Homo sapiens: one gene and its partner. The protein of the gene in region 1 purifies or fractionates together with the protein of each later gene. This does not show direct contact. Each region holds a gene or a part of one and is shown on either strand. Other genes may lie near its edges. The genes, in order: DENND1A and LIMA1.

Region 1 (8,312 bases):
GAAATGGTTCACATTAAGGATTTCCACGGTACCTGACAGAGATTGTGTTCAACCAGGCTTAAACTTAAAAGAGAAGTCTGATCAAACACGAAATCTCAACACCTGTGCCTAGCAACTCACGTGCTTTACCACTGATCACACAACAGACACCAGCTTCACAATTACACACAATATTGTTTTAAATCAACTTTTATTTTTTAATAATGAGACAATGTTAAGCCCTACTCTGCATGTTAACAGCCTAATTCCTTGGTCATTAAAATTTTCTTCTCCATTACCTTAAACATACCTTTCTCTGACATTTCTAATATACAGTAATGTTCTTAGTCTTTTGATACAGAAGGTGAAAAAAAAGAAAAAAACCTAACAATTACTGAGTTTTTAACATGGACCTGACATTTACATTGATACTGTGTTCAATGCTCATAATAACCCTACAACCTGGACACAGTCCTCCCCATTTTACCTTCAGGGAAACTGAGGTTGAAAAGGCAGTCTGTGTAAAGTTTCATAATTAGCATTAAAAAGAGCTGGAATTTGAACCTAGACCTGATTCCACCTAGTCAACTGACTTGCTGCATCAGAGATAAGCAAGAGAAAACAAAAGGAACCCCTCCCCCTTGTCCCTACCTCCAAGACTGTCCTATTCAATGGAACCTGCACACTTAGATTTCACCACAGCCAGGAGAACATCTTGAATGCCCTGCCAGGAGGGAAAGCCAGCCAGTAGTAACCAAAGCTCTGTCTTCTCCAACAACTAGAGGAGCACTTAAGTGGGTAATTTCCTGTCCATCCCCATTCCTAGCTACAGGCAGAAGTTGCATAATCAACAGTCACTATAAATCACAACTACTTTTCATAACTTCTCTCTTCATATTCTCTTTCGGTTTCACCACAAGCTAACATATTTCCCAAGCCTAAGTTTTTATCACAGAGTAGTCTAGTTTCAAGATCAATAAGGCTATTCTTCATACTCATTTCACGCTTAATACAATTCCATGCCTTAGTAAATTCCCTAACCCAAGTGCTCAGAATTAGCGATGGGTTCCACAAAACACATTTGAGAAATGTATTTGTCAACCTGCTACCTTGGAGAGCAACAGAGAGATTTGATGGCTAGCCATCTGAACTTTTACTTGCTGGATTTTAATACTGGTTCTGACACTCACTGCTTCATGTCAGGCAAGTTTCTGAACTTTTCTGTAACAAGAAGGGTAAGTGTCCTCACGCATACTCTGCAACTCTAAGTTGGCTTCTGGAAAGTGTTTCTAAGTGCTATTGAAATCCAAGTTTACAACTCTTACTTGGAAGCAGGAGCTAAACTTGAGTGCCTCTTTAATCCCAATGTTTCACAAACGACATCTTTTTACCTCCCAAGCCTCTCAAGCTCTTGTTTGGAGCATGCTTCTAACTTTTTTCTCATTTCCACAAAAATAAAGATTTAACAGAGTGTTCATGCGACTCTTCCATTTTCATTACCATAAGCAAACTTTTCTAGTTTCATTCAGCAGATGTCTCAAGGCTGCTGCAGCGCATCTCATACATATTTTGTAAATGAGAAGCCTAACCACACGGGGGACTGCAAGGCTGGGCAAGGGTCACACTGCACGGGCATCACCTGGACATGAGATGCAATGTTTGAATAATTATTAGTTTCACCCTTAAGGCCCTTCTCCTTTCAAACTTCCCTAGTACAATTCTCAAAATGCTGAAATAAACACATTCCACAAACTTTCTTGTAAGAGGGTTTAAAGTGTCCTAGGAAAGTTGTTTTACAGAAAAGCCTATGCTGTCAACTTTGCTTTTTAATGCCCTTAAACAATTCTATTAGTCACAGAGGAAAAAGTGAACATTTGTTAGTAATTAGAGATAAAACATCTCCAGTTCTGGGGCAGAGGAAGGGAGAGGCCACAAGAGGACCTGGCTGGGAGGGGAGATAGAGTCGAAAGCCACACACCCAAATTGGACCGCTTAAGAGTTGCACTTTCCAAAGTCAACTTCTAAGTCTACAAGGACAGCAACAATGTTTCAGTGGATTCTGAAGTTACATGTATCAACAATTTCCCCGGAAAGCTAACCCTCCACCGGGAACTCCAGGTGAATGAATGAGTGAGGGAATTCGCCAGATTGAGTTACAAAGCCTTTCCAACGATTATCAAGAGCAGGTGCTCGGTTACAACACAGAGGTATCCTCCTTCACAGCCTTTGGACCTTGCTGCGTGGAGATTTTCACAGATAAGAGGGGGGAAATAGAGAGACAGGCCTTCCTCCCCGGCCATCCACACCTTAGGTGGCCACACCATGAGCGGCCCCTCCCTCTAAGAACCTCACGCGACTTCTGTGGGGGCCGCAGGCCTCAAGCGGCCAGGCTGCAACCTCTCCGGACCTGCCAACTTTCAGGGGCGCCCCAAACATGCCCAAACATGGGGAGGTGCTTCCGGGGCTTTCCCACTCCCCTTCCCCACAGTTGAAGGACCATTTTCAGGGGCTCTCCGTAAACCCGGGGAGGGGGCCGCCCTGTAATCTCAGCTGTTCCGACCCCCAGGTGAGGAGGGGACACCTGACCCCCGGCGCCCTGCCACCCCGCGCGCACCCCGCCCCCGCGCCTCCCTGGATCGCCATAGCAACCGTCCCCCTCCCCGCGTGCCGGCGTCACGCGGGGCGCCCCTCTGGTCTCGGCAACAAGTCCCCCGCGCGGCCCGCGGCCTGCAGCCCTGGCCCGGCCTCGCCGCCCCGCGCCCGGCCCGGCTCCGCCCGGCCCGGCCGCACTCACTTGATCCTGGAGCCCATGGTCCCCAGGCCTCCTCATGGGCCCGCGGGCCCCGCTCGGCGCTGCGCTGCCCGCCCGCCCGCGGCCGACCGGCCTCCCTCTGGCGCTCTCCCCGCCCCTTCCTCCCTTCCCTCAGGCTGGGGCCCGCCCGCTCGAGGCTCGCTCCCTCGCCGCCGCCGCCGCCTCCAGGGGTTAATGTACTCGCTCCAGCCCGGCGAACGCCATGGTCGCCGGCGCGCGTGCCCGGCGCGCGCCGCCCCCTCCGCCTCTCACCACCGCCCCTCCCGCCCGCGCTGCCGCCGCCGCTGCCCGCTGGGGCTGCTGGGAAGTGTAGTCCGCTCGCGGGGGCGGGGCCGTGGCCGGTGGGGGCGGGGCGGGAGCGCGGTCACCCGCACGTCTCCCAGGGCGCGGGCCCCGGAGGACTCTGGCGTTCCGTTGCAGGCCCTTACACATCTGCACCCCACTGCGCCCCGCTGGAAACCTCCACTCACAGCCGCCCTGAAGAGACCCTAATCCTCTCATGGAGACCCCAAGCCCTCCCGATGAAACCGCCACCAATCCTCCCATTGGAGGCCTCCCACCCAGCCTCTCTAACGGAGAGCTAATCCCCCGCCCAGGCCTCCATGAAAACACGTTTTCCCTTTAACATCCCGCACCTTCCAGTAAGTTCCGTGCAGAACCTCTTCTCCATCACACCGTCCACTTCCCCATCTGAAGGCCTTTCCTCTTCCTTTCCCCTTAGAGCTTGAAGGAGACCCCACATACCTACAGGAAAGCCACCTGGGGGCTTCGTGGACCCACGTGGTGGCTCAGCTCTGCCCTCCCGCTGAGGACCTCTGCCTCCCTTTATCAGCCGTTTTGGGAACTCCAACATCGAAGCCTCCTGTTAACACAACAGTCCCTGATAGAGATTAACTCAATGCAAATGAAAGGATTTGAGAGCCGAGATCACCAGCCTGCTACCTACCCCTGCTCCCCCTTGGGATTCACTTCCATGAACACCTCAATTTCATCCCCTCTAGGGCCAGAGGGATCATAAAGGAAGCAATAATCACAGCTACCATTAGCCACCCTTTAATGAGCGGGTGAGTGCCCTTTCTGCATCAGACACAGTATTTCCGTACATCATTAGTGCCAATCCTCACAATAATCCTGTGTTCATCTCCCTAATTTACAAAGAGGAAACTGAGCCACATTCCCAAGGTCACATAACTAGCAACGAGTGAAGAAGCCAAGATTAGTGTCCAGACTGAATCATTCCAGACACCTGTGACATAGTCATGCTTTAAGGTGGCACCTTTGGCCACAAGTCCAAAGACATTTTTAATATTAGGCTTTTTTTCCTTTTTTTTTTTTTTTTTCCAATTTTCTGTCCCGAAATGCCATTCATCACTTCTGCCATTTTAGTTCTTATAAATGCATGGAGTGCCTCCCCACCCTACCCCCACCCCATAGCCTCTACGTAACTGGTCCTGCGTCCTAGCTCCCGGCCAGGATGGGAGGAAAGAAAGCCAGAAGATAAGTCGTAGAAGACTTCTTCTGTTGGAGTCACCTTCTGAATAAAGATAGTTTCTCCCTTTTGCCTCTGCCTTTAGGTTGTTGAAGTCAAAGGGTAAACTTTTTAAAATGAAAACCAAAAAAAAAGTGAAAATGTCCAAACTGTCATTTTGAATTTAAAGTCTTATGCACCCAGACACCAATACCGACTTGTAAACACCCCCAGGAGCAAAGCTCTGCTAGACAGGCAGGAGCTCTGTGGTGTTTATTCACCTATGAAACTTCTCCAAGGAACAGTTGCTATCAAGATCTTCCCTGGAATGGGAGCCAGTTCAAAAGCTCTGAGCAGGAGACTATAAATAAAACAAAGTTATTGGTGGAGGGCAAAGCTGGCTGCTTTTCAAAGGAGGTTGTAGCCATCCTGGCCACAAATATGTCTGGGTGCCTGCTGGGTGGGGTGTGTGTGTGTGTGTGTGTGTGTGTGTGTGTGTGTGTGTGTGTTGGAGAGGGAGGTAGAAGGTGGGGATTATGTGTCTGCTCAGGTGGCCTCAGAGACAGCAGGGTGGTCTGAGGAGAGAGCACTGGACTGGGAGTTAGGAACGTGGCTTCTAATTCTGGCTTCAGCATTGACTGGCAGATTTTATGCAAATGATTAGACAAGTGTATGTTTTAGTTTCCTCCCCCGTAAAATGGGCAGAGAGAGTGATGAGAAGCTTCCATCATAAGAGCGAGTGTAACATAGGAGCAAAGAGCACAGGCTCTAGAACCAGACTGCCAGGGTTTAAATCTCAGCTCTACCTCTTACTAAATATATGGCCTTGGGTGAATTATTCCTTCTCTGTGTGTCTCAGGTTCTCTGTCTGTAAAATGGAAATGGTGATAATAATAGACCTATTTTAGTGAGTTGACACGAGGATTAAGTGAGTTAGTGACATTTATAAAGTATTTAAACAGTGATTATCACATATTAAGTACTCAAAAATTAAAAGCAACTATTATATACAAAACACTTAGCACCGTTTGGCTTTTATTATTAAAATTAATAAGGCAACCAGTGGCTGGGCATGGTGGCTCACACCTGTAATCCCAGCACTTTGGGAGGCCAAGGCGAGTGGATCACTTGAGGCCAGGAGTTCAAGACCAGCCTGACCACCAACATGGTGAAAACCCATCTCTACTAAAAAATAGAAAAAATTTAGCCGGGTGTGGTGGCAGGCGCCTGTGGTCCCAGCTACTCAAGAGGCTGAGGCAGGAGAATCGCTTGAACCCAGAAGGCAGAAGTTGTAGTGAGCCGAGATCACGCCACTGCACTCCAGCCTGGGCAACAGAGCAAGACTGTCTCAAAGGAAAAACAAAGGCCGGGCATGGTGGCTCATGCCTGTAATCCCAGGACTTTGGGAGGCTGAGGCGGGCAGATCATGAGGTCAGGAGATGGAGACCATCCTGGCTAACATGGTGAAACCCCATCTGTACTAAAAAAAAATACCAAAAATTAGCTGGGCGTGGTGGTGGGCACCTGTAGTCCCAGCTACATGGGAGCCTGAGGCAGGAGAATGGCGTGAACCCAGGAGGCGGATTTTGCAGTGAGCCGAGATCATGCCACTGCACTCCAGCCTGGGCGACAGAGCAAAACTCCGTCTCAAAAAAAAAAAAAAAAAAGTACCCAGCTCCGTGGCTTGTTCCTGTAGTGCCAGCTACTCAGGAGGCTGAGCCCAGGAGTTTAAGGCTGAGCCTAGGATTTTGAGGCTGCAGCACGCTATGATCATGCCCATGAATAGCCACTGCACTCCACCCTGAGCAACATAGCGAGGCCCCATCTCTGAAATAAATAAATACATTTTGTAAAACTGATCAACATAATAATAAAGAGTACCATGCTTGGATTCGGGAGACCTGAGTTCTCAGCCCAACTTGTTTGTTCACGTTCTGTATCAGTTAGAATTCAATTCAACTGTAAATGATAGAGAAGTGAAATAACAATTGTTGAAAAAAATAGAATTTTATTTCTCTTTCACATAAAGTCTGGCGATTAACATTCCAGAGCTGGTATGACAATTCTATAATTAATGGAGACCCAGAATTCTATCTTATTGCTCTCCGATTCTCCAGGAAGAATTTCCACCTCATAGTCCAGGATGGCTGCTTAAACTCTAGCTATCTAATCTGCAGCCCAGCCTGCAGGAAGGAAGGAGGATCTGTCCACGTCAAACTCTGACCTTTAAGTGTACTTCCCAGGAATTACTCACACCACTTCTATTTACATCCCAGTGGCCAGAATTTAGTCATGCAACCACACCTCACTAGAAAATACAGCCTTTATTCCAGACAACCAGACAATAAGGTCCGCAGCTGAAAGGTAGGGAGAAGGGAATGGCATTTCCAGGAAAGAAGGGGAGGATAGATATTGCAAGACACCCAGCAGGCTCAGCCATGCTTGGCTATGTGATTTTGAGCAAGCCACAGATTTAACCAAAATAAGAGAATCAGGCCAGGTGACCTCCTTCCAAAGTCCTTTTGGGTTCTAAAGTTCTATAATTCAGTGGCTGATTGATTTTATAATTCCTTTAAACCTAGGTGAATCTGACGTCATTCAAATGAAATGAGACCTCTGTGCCAAATACATGCCATAATCAATTGTTGGAATGTAAATCTTCTGGTGAAGAGAAAGGATTTAGGAACTTTGCCTTCTTGACTGTTGTCAAAATAGGCTAAGCAGATCTAGCAGATAAAAGTCCAACGGTAGGGATGATACCACCTGCATTGACACTTTGATGCTCCTCAGTTTCCAAGCTTGCTCTTGCTCTTTTGTACCTGTTTGGTTTCTCTGCTTGGAATTTAGGGAGCTGTGTTTATTGAGGGGAAGACAGCAACCCCAGGGAGCTCTATTGGCCCCCAATTATACAATACGAAATAGCAGAACAAATGGTCTGTGTGCCAGGATTCAGTGGTCTGTTGTTCCTAATACGTTAAATTGTGATTATATTATTTTTTATTGAAATGTAGTTCACCAACCATACAATTTACCACTTTAAATGTGTACATTTCAATGGTTTTAGCTGATGGACTTTTGGATTGTTTTCTTTTTTTTGAGTCTCACTCTGTCACCAGGCTGGAGTGCAGTGACGCAATCTCAGCTCACTTCTCAGCTCACTGCAACCTCCACCTACCGGGTTCAAGGTATTCTCTTGCCTCAGCCACATGAGTAGCTGGAACTACAGGCGTGTGCCACCATGCCCAGCTAATTTTTGTATTTTTAGTAGAGACAGGGTTTCACCATGTTGGCCAGGCTGGTCTCAATCTCTTGACCTTGTGATCCGCCCACCTCAGCCTCCCAAAGTGCTGGGATTACAGGCGTGAGCCACGGCGCCCATCCTGGATTGCTTTCTTCTTTTGGTTATTGTGACTCTGGAGCCAGATGGACCCAGGTTGCTAGTTGGGTGAACTTGGAGAATGTTACTTAAATTTTCTGAGCCTTGGTTTCTTCTTCTTTAATAAGAGGATGATAATACCCACTTTACAAAGATAAAACAAAATGAAGAATTTAAGCTTCTTGCTCTATATTTGGTTTTCAATGAATGGGAATATTATTCTGCTAAATGGTCAAATTGATAAAGAGAGGAACCACATCAGGTTTGTCCATACCTACTTCTCAACATCTAGTACAGAGCCTAGCACGCAGGCAGTGACCGGTAAATATTTTTTGAAAAAATAACTAAACAACCACAAAACCCTTATTTTGAGGCACATTCCTCAAGAATAATAAGCCACAGAACAAGATTTGGGAAGTGCTTTCTTAAATTTGAACTTAGTATATTCAGTTGGTGCATTTGCTCACCTTCTATTTTTTATACATTTTTAAAAATTGTGGTAAAATGTGCATAACAGAAAGTTGACCACTGTAACCATTTTTAAAGTGTACATTTCAATGGCATTAAGTACATTCACATTGTTATACATCCATCACCACCATCCTCCTCCAGCACTTTTTTCATCTTCCCAAACTGAAACTTTATACCCATGAAATGGCACAACAACTCCCCCTCCC
Region 2 (7,376 bases), on another chromosome or scaffold:
GGTATTGATTCACACAGGATGCTTATGAGGACTAAATGAAAGGATAAAAGCAAAAGTACTTTGAAAACTGTCAGCTACTCTACAAAGCATTATTTTAAATAAAACTTCAAGCCAGCATTAAGAAAAAAAATGGAATTAAAAAAGACTAACCAATGAAAAGAAATAGAAATTAGAACTAATTCATTATAATGTCTGGTTCAACTAGATGTTAATAAGAAACCTTTTGTTTAAAGCTGTTGCTGAAAATCTTTCTAATCAGTACACTGTCTAAACAGTGTGTCTAAACAGTAACACATTTCAGAGCATGTGTTAATAGTAAGTATAATGAAAATCATTTCATTTTTTCTTGAAGATTCTAGATAGCTTTCTAATTTTTCTCCTAGAGAATGAAAACAGAAGAAAACTTCTGGTTGTTTGTGGATTCCAGTAATTGGGTTTTAGTTTTGCCACACTGGCTTTTGAAAATGTAATAGGAGTTGATAGACTAGTATAATCCAGAGTAACAATCTGGGAAGTAGATGGCTATAGTGGTAGGAAAATAGTGGCCTGGATCCTGGAAACACCTTAGAAAACTTGCACTCAGATGGAACTTAATCCTGGTTGTCACAGTATCCAAACTTTTGTCCTGCTACCTTCCGAACTCCTCAGAGACTGCTACCTGATTTGAACCCAGATGGACCGACCTCAGCTGTTGTCCAGTTAAAAAAAATACAACACTTTGGATTGCAAAACAAAACAAGACTTGTCCAAATGAAAAGTCCATCTTCAAGGCTTATTCATTCATTCAACAAATATTTATTTAGCATTTACCAAGTCTTTGGCAGTATTCCAAGTGCTGAAGATATAATGTTAAAAATGACAGACAAGGCCGAGCGCGATGGCTCACGCCTGTAATCCCAGCACTTTGAGAGGCCAAGGCAGGCGGATAATGAGGTCGAGAGATGCAGACCATCCTGGCCAACATGGTGAAATCCTGTCGCTACCAAAAATAAAAAATTTAGCTGGGTGTGGTGGCAGGTGCCTGGAGTCCCAGCTACTTGGGAGGCTGAAGCAGGAGACTCTTGAACCTGGGAGTTGGAGGTTGCAGTGAGTCAAGATCGTGCCATTCCACTCCACCCTGGGTGACAGAGTGAGGCTCCATCTCAAAAAAAAAAAAGACAGACATGGTCTCTACTCTCATGAAATTTCCATTCCACTGGAGAAGCCGGACAATTAAAGACTGTGATTAGTGGTGTGAAGGAAATACAAAAAGAGTAACTGGAGTTGTGGTAGGAACAGGGACACGAACAGCTTCTTTAGGCAGTGATCAGGGAAGGCCTCATTGAGTGAATGACATTTGAACTGAAACCTGAATGATGGGGAGAACATATGCAGCCAGCAAGGTGAAGACAATAGATGGGGGAGTTTTCCAGGTAGAGGAAAGCAAATGCAAAGGCCCTGAGGAAGGAATAATACAGCTAGGAAGTAAGTGAGAAGCATGCGATGACACAGAGATGAGTAGTAGTCAGATTAAATACGGATTAATAACAATGCTAAAGGATTTTAATTTTATTCTATGTGTGATACAAAGCCAAACATTATTATATAAAAGTGTGTTTGCAAGATCAGATATATTTCATGTACTAAATGAGTACTTTGGCCAGGTGCGGTGGCTCATGCCTATAATCCCAGCACTTTGGGAAGCTGAGGTGGGCAGATCACTTGAGGCCAGGAGTTCTAGACCAGCCTGGCCAACATGGTGAAACCCTGTCTCTACTAATAATACAAAAAAAAAACAAAATTAGCCAGGCGTGGTGGCGCGTGCCTGTAGTCCCAGCTACTCCGGAGGTCTGAGGCATGAGAATCACCTGAACCCAGGAGGTGGGGGTTGCAGTGAGCTGAGATTGCGCCATTGCACTCCAACCTGGGACAGAATGAAACTGTGTCTCAAAATAATAAAATAAAATGAGTTCTTAATTGTTTATATGTGCATAATGGCCACAAAATGAAAAGGAAGGGAAAGGTTCTCATACCTAAAAGGCTTGTAATCTTACAAGGAAGCAATAATTTATAAATAGTGACAACATTAAGTAAGGTAAGAAATGAAGCAAAAATCAAGTGTTAAGTATAAAGACTGGGGAGGCAGCCACTGATTCAAGTAGAAGAAATTAGAAAAGGCTTTTTTTTATTAAAAAAATTTAAAAAGGTAGCATTTGATTTGGGCTCTTAAGGAAAAGGATTTCAACAAGAGGGTGGGGAAGGGGAGGAGCATGAGGCTGTGGTAACTGCATGAGCAAAGGCACAGAGGCAGGAAAGAACTGGGCAGGTCCAGGAAACAGAGAATTATTGTAGGGTCACAGTGCCAGGTGGGTGGGTCGTGTTGTGGGAGATAAGCCTAAAAGAATAGGCTGTCAGAGTGGGGGTGTGGGTGTCTTGAAGAGCATGTCAGAAAGCTAGACTGAATTTACTTAGGCATTGTCTCCCCTTAAGTTTGTATATAAATCTCTTGAGGTACTTGATAAACTTCAGGTTCCCAGGCCCATCCCTCAGACACACTGATCTGCAGGTCTAGGTGGGACCTGAGACTCTACCTTTTTAACCACTGCCAGGTAATTCTAACACAGGCAATTAAAGGAACCATATTTTGAAAATCAGTGCTTTTTTTTTTTATGACAACTCTGATAACTTTTCTGCAAGGGAAAAACTGAAGCCAACTCTAAGGATTACTCAAGGACTCAAGGACTCTGGCAAAAAACTAAAAGGGGAATCTGAATTAGAAGACTGATTAAAGAACTCTTATCACCCCTGGGGCAGAATCAGCCAAACTTGGGGATTGATCAAATGTGGGTGGAGAAAAGTATTAAAGTGGTAAGTACAACCTCAAGCTTTCTCCTTAGTGAATCTGGGTGTACGCAGATGCATGGCGTACAGGGACTATCCACATAGCCTAACAGGTAGCTGGAAATACAGATCTGGAACTCAGATATACAAAGGCATTAAACATATTGGTTTGGTACTTCAAAGTAAGTTCAATACAAATTAAAGAATTAAATATAAAGTGTAAAACGGTAAAAATCAGAAGGAAATGAAAGTGAGTATTTAACCAATCTCTGGATGGTGAAGGCCTTCTAAACATCACAGCACCAGAAGAAATCTCAAATTTAAAAATCCAGGCTGGGTGTGGTGGCTCACGCCTGTAATTGTAACACTTTGGAAGGCCGAGGCGGGCAGATTACCTGGGTCAGGAGTTCAAGACCAGCCTGGCCAATATGGAGAAACCCTGTCTCTACTAAAAATACAAAAATTAGCTAGGCGTGGTGGCATGTGCCTGTAATCCCAGCTACTTGGGAGGCTGAGGCATGAGAATCACTTGAACCCTGGAGGAGGAGGCTAGAGTGAGCCGAGATTGTGCCACTGCACTCCAGCCTGGGTGACTGAGTGACACACTGTCTCAAAAAAAAAAAAATCTATAGATAAGTAATAATATACTATATACAAAATTAAAAGGCAAACTGGTTAAATATTTGACCACAGGACAAAAAATTAATATTCTTAGAAGAGTTTATACCAATCTCAAAGAAAAACACTAAGAATGGTTCTGTATGAAGTAGAAGAAGTTGTTAAATAACTTGCCTTGGAGACGTACACCCTCTAGTCACAAAATGAGACATTTTTCACATACATTGTAGATAATCGAGTTTTGTGGCACAGGTCAGCAGGGCTTCTGTGATTTTATCTTACCAGTTTCCAAGTGTCAGTCTATGGGAGTGCCTAAAAAAATACCAATCTTTTTGACTTCTTTTTTTTTCTTTTCTTCCCCCAACCCCCACAGCAAGAACCCCATTCAATTTTTTTTTTATACTTCTATTTTCCTGAAAGTTAAAGGGCACAAACAAATTAAGCTGTCCCCAGGCTCCCCTTGCTACTCCGGTGGACACTGCCTTTACTGCATCCAGTCTTTCCTCAGGCTCTATATATCTAAAATTAGGTGAAAGGTTAGAGATGAGACAGAAAGTAATTCCAGAATGTCTAGTGAACAGTAGTAGCTCCAAAGGCATCCTTTCAGCACAGAGGTTGTCCAGTCTTGGGGATCAAAAGCCCAACCCTCTCATTTTACAGATGAGGCTCTGAGTCAATGAATCAATGACTTGTCCAAGATCACCTGATTGGTTGATGACAACATTAAGTTGGGAATCCTGACTCTCAAATAGCACCCTTTCCATTCTGCAGTACTGCTTCATTGATCACAAGCTCTGGCCCCTCAAAACAATGGGCATTTATAACACCACAATTCCAACTTCTGTATACTTTCCACTTTGTCACTCCATTCACTCTATTTGGTCTAATAAAAGCCTGTGCTTCCCCCACAAAACGCTCCAAATAAAAGAATACCAAACAAAAAACCAACATAATTAAAATGTTAACGCCCAAATAAAAATGGGAGTGGGATTAACCCAGACATAATTCACAGAAGAAACAGAAATGAATGTATGAAAAATGTTCTCTCTCACTAGCAAAGAAATACAAATTAATTCATTTCTGCCTATCAAATTAGTAAAGATTAAAAAATAATATTCGGGCCGGGCGCGGTGGCTCATGCTGTAATCCCAGCACTTTGGGAGGCCGAGGTGGGCAGATCTCCTGAGGTCAGGGGCTTGAGGTCAGCCTGATCAACAGGGTGAAACCCTGTCTCTACTAAAAAACACAAAAATTAGCCAGACGGGCTGGGCGAGGTGGCTCATGCCTGTAATCCCAGCACTTTGGGAGGCCGAGGTGGGCGGATCACAAGGTCAGGAGATTGAGACCATCCTGGCTAACACGGTGAAACCCCATCTCTACTAAAAATAAAAAAAAAAATAGCCAGGTGTGGTGGCGGGCACCTGTAGTCCCAGCTACTCAGGAGTCTGAGGCAGGAGAATGGCATGAACCCGGGACGTGGAGCTTGCAGTGAGCAGAGATCGTGCCACTGCACTCCAGCCTGGGCGACAGAGCGAGACTCCATCTCAAAAATCATCATAATAATAATATTCAATGTTACCAAGGCCGCACTAAGATGGGCACTCACAATCACTGCAGTTGAGAATGTTAATTAGTCTAATCTTTACAAAAAGCAATTTGGGAGCAGGTTTAGTATTTTTAAATTTTCACACTCCTTGACCTGGTAATTCAACCTCTGGGAATCTAACCTAAGGAAATAATGAGTCATTTGCACAAAGATTTATGCATAAATTTGTTCTCAATTGTTTTCATTTAATGTAAAACCAAAACACAAATAAATTATGCAACCTCAATATAATAAATTATTAAATAGATTACAATGGAGATTAAATATCCATTTAAATGTTTTCAAAAATTTTTGATGCTATGAAAAATAATATAAAGCAAAAAAAGCAGACACAAAACTATATCTACTGCAACAGTATGAGTTCAATTACCTTTGTGTTTATGTGAGTGTGTGTATATCAAAGAAAACAAAACCACTGAAAGGAAATATATCAAATGATAGATCTCTCTGGAACAGATTATGGAATATGGGTTATTTTGTCTTCTTTATAATTTGTTTTTTCCACATTTTCTTTTTTTCTTTTCTTTTCTTTTTTTTTTTTTGATATGGAGTCTTGCTTTGTCACCCAGGCTGGAGTGCAGTGGCATGAGCTTGGCTCTCTGCAACCTCTGCCTCCTGGGTTCAAGGGATTCTCCTGCTTCAGCCTCCTTAGTAGCTGGGACTACAGGCATGCGCCACCATGCCCAGCTAATTTTTGTATTTTTAGTAGAGATGGGGTTTCACTATGTTGGCCAGGCTGGTCTCGAACTCCTGACCTCAAGTGATCACCCGCCTCAGCCTCCCAAAGTGCTGGGATTACAGGCATGAGCCATCACACCCGGCCTGTTTTTTCCACATTTTCTATAATAAACATATATAATTTTTATTTTATAATAATATAAATATCTATAATTTTTATTTTTAAATGTGTTGGCATATATGAAAATAAAACAATTATATATACAATATGAAAGAAGTTTTTTAAAAAGATAAATTTTCAGGCCACTTACATGGAGGTGATAGTGGAAGTCATGGAAAGAAATCAGATTATAAAGGGAGAAAGTATAGTGAGAATAGGAAGCTGAGCAGGGCTATGGTGAACCCGGCATTTAAGGGGCAAAAAGACTGAGTTAATGGATCATGGGAGTAAGTGGTTAGATTAGAAAATGGAGAACCAGATAGTAGTCATGTCAAGAAAAGCAAATGAAAGGAAGAACTAGACAAGTTGTTCACTTGGTCAGTTATTGCCAAGGGGTAAGGACCGTTAGACAGAAACCACTGGATACTATGCATGGACAGACAGCTTTCCTGTAGTGCTGGAAGCCAAATTTTTGCTCAGACGCCAAAGCTGAGCAAATGTTACCTGTTTAGTAAAACTGACTATGAAATAAAAGAAGTCCCGGGGCATTAGCTTGAATTTCAGTTTATGGAGAAAAAAAAGATTGTGGAAATCTAAAACTAAGTAAAGCGGATATTGGGACTAATTTATGGGTAATGAAACAAAAATGGCAATACTTTGTGCAAGACAAAACATATTTGAAGGACTGTAAAGTTTTCCATATCATAAACTCTGTTACAGAATAATTAAGGGGGAAAATAGATCCACACTTGTTATCAGAAGTACAAAAAAGTTGCATCTTTTTTTCCCCTAAAGATGAAAGTTCTTAGTTTCAGGGTAGTAGTATTTTTTTTTTTTTTTTTTTTTTTTTTTTGAGACGGAGTCTCACTCTGTCACGCAGGCTGGAGTGCAGTGGCGCGATCTCCGCTCACTGCAAGCTCCGCCTCCCGGGTTCACGCCATTCTCCCGCCTCAGCCTCCCGAGTAGCTAGGACTACAGGCGCCTGCCACCACGCCCGGCTAATTTTGTTTTTGTATTTTTAGTAGAGACTGGGTTTCACCATGTTAGCTAGGATGGTCTCGATCTCCTGACCTCGTGATCCTCCCGCCTCGGCCTCCCAAAGTGCTGGGATTACAGGCGTGAGCCACCGCGCCCGGCCCAGGGTAGTAGTATTAAGAAATTATTTAAAAGAACATCAAAAGAATGTAAAATTTTCATGGTATCATGTTAACTTCTTATGAGTGGACACAGGAAGTCTCTAGAAAGTTTTCACGTGTCAAGAAATCATCTGACATGCTGAATAATGGATTGCTTGTTAGGTCAAACTCCATCCTTTTTATGAAAAGAGGTCTTCAGTAGCACAATAATTTGACTGAGTCTTGAGGACTCTGCACCCAGCTTCAGAATAAACTCATCAGTATGGTCCTACCTTATCATCCACCATAGACTCTCAACTCCATAATCATTAAGTAGAAACTACTTCATTTACAACCACTGGTTTGTTAGTAACCTGAA

Evidence for each region.
Region 2: the proteins of DENND1A (region 1) and LIMA1 purify together in Homo sapiens (affinity purification with mass spectrometry; 2 studies listed by BioGRID and IntAct, with this or other methods). This does not show direct contact.

Annotation. Positions count from the first base shown.
Region 1 is NC_000009.12:123,927,116-123,935,427, forward strand, and holds the start of DENND1A (DENN domain-containing protein 1A), read right to left. Parts: upstream 3,012-8,312; 5' UTR 2,810-3,011; coding exon of another isoform or gene 2,791-2,809; coding exon 2,774-2,790; intron 2,551-2,773; exon of another isoform or gene 1,542-2,550; coding exon of another isoform or gene 1,480-1,541; intron 1-1,479. UniProt on the Homo sapiens protein: Guanine nucleotide exchange factor (GEF) regulating clathrin-mediated endocytosis through RAB35 activation. Promotes the exchange of GDP to GTP, converting inactive GDP-bound RAB35 into its active GTP-bound form.
Region 2 is NC_000012.12:50,273,438-50,280,813, forward strand, and holds part of LIMA1 (LIM domain and actin-binding protein 1), read right to left. Parts: intron 1-7,376. UniProt on the Homo sapiens protein: Actin-binding protein involved in actin cytoskeleton regulation and dynamics. Increases the number and size of actin stress fibers and inhibits membrane ruffling. Inhibits actin filament depolymerization.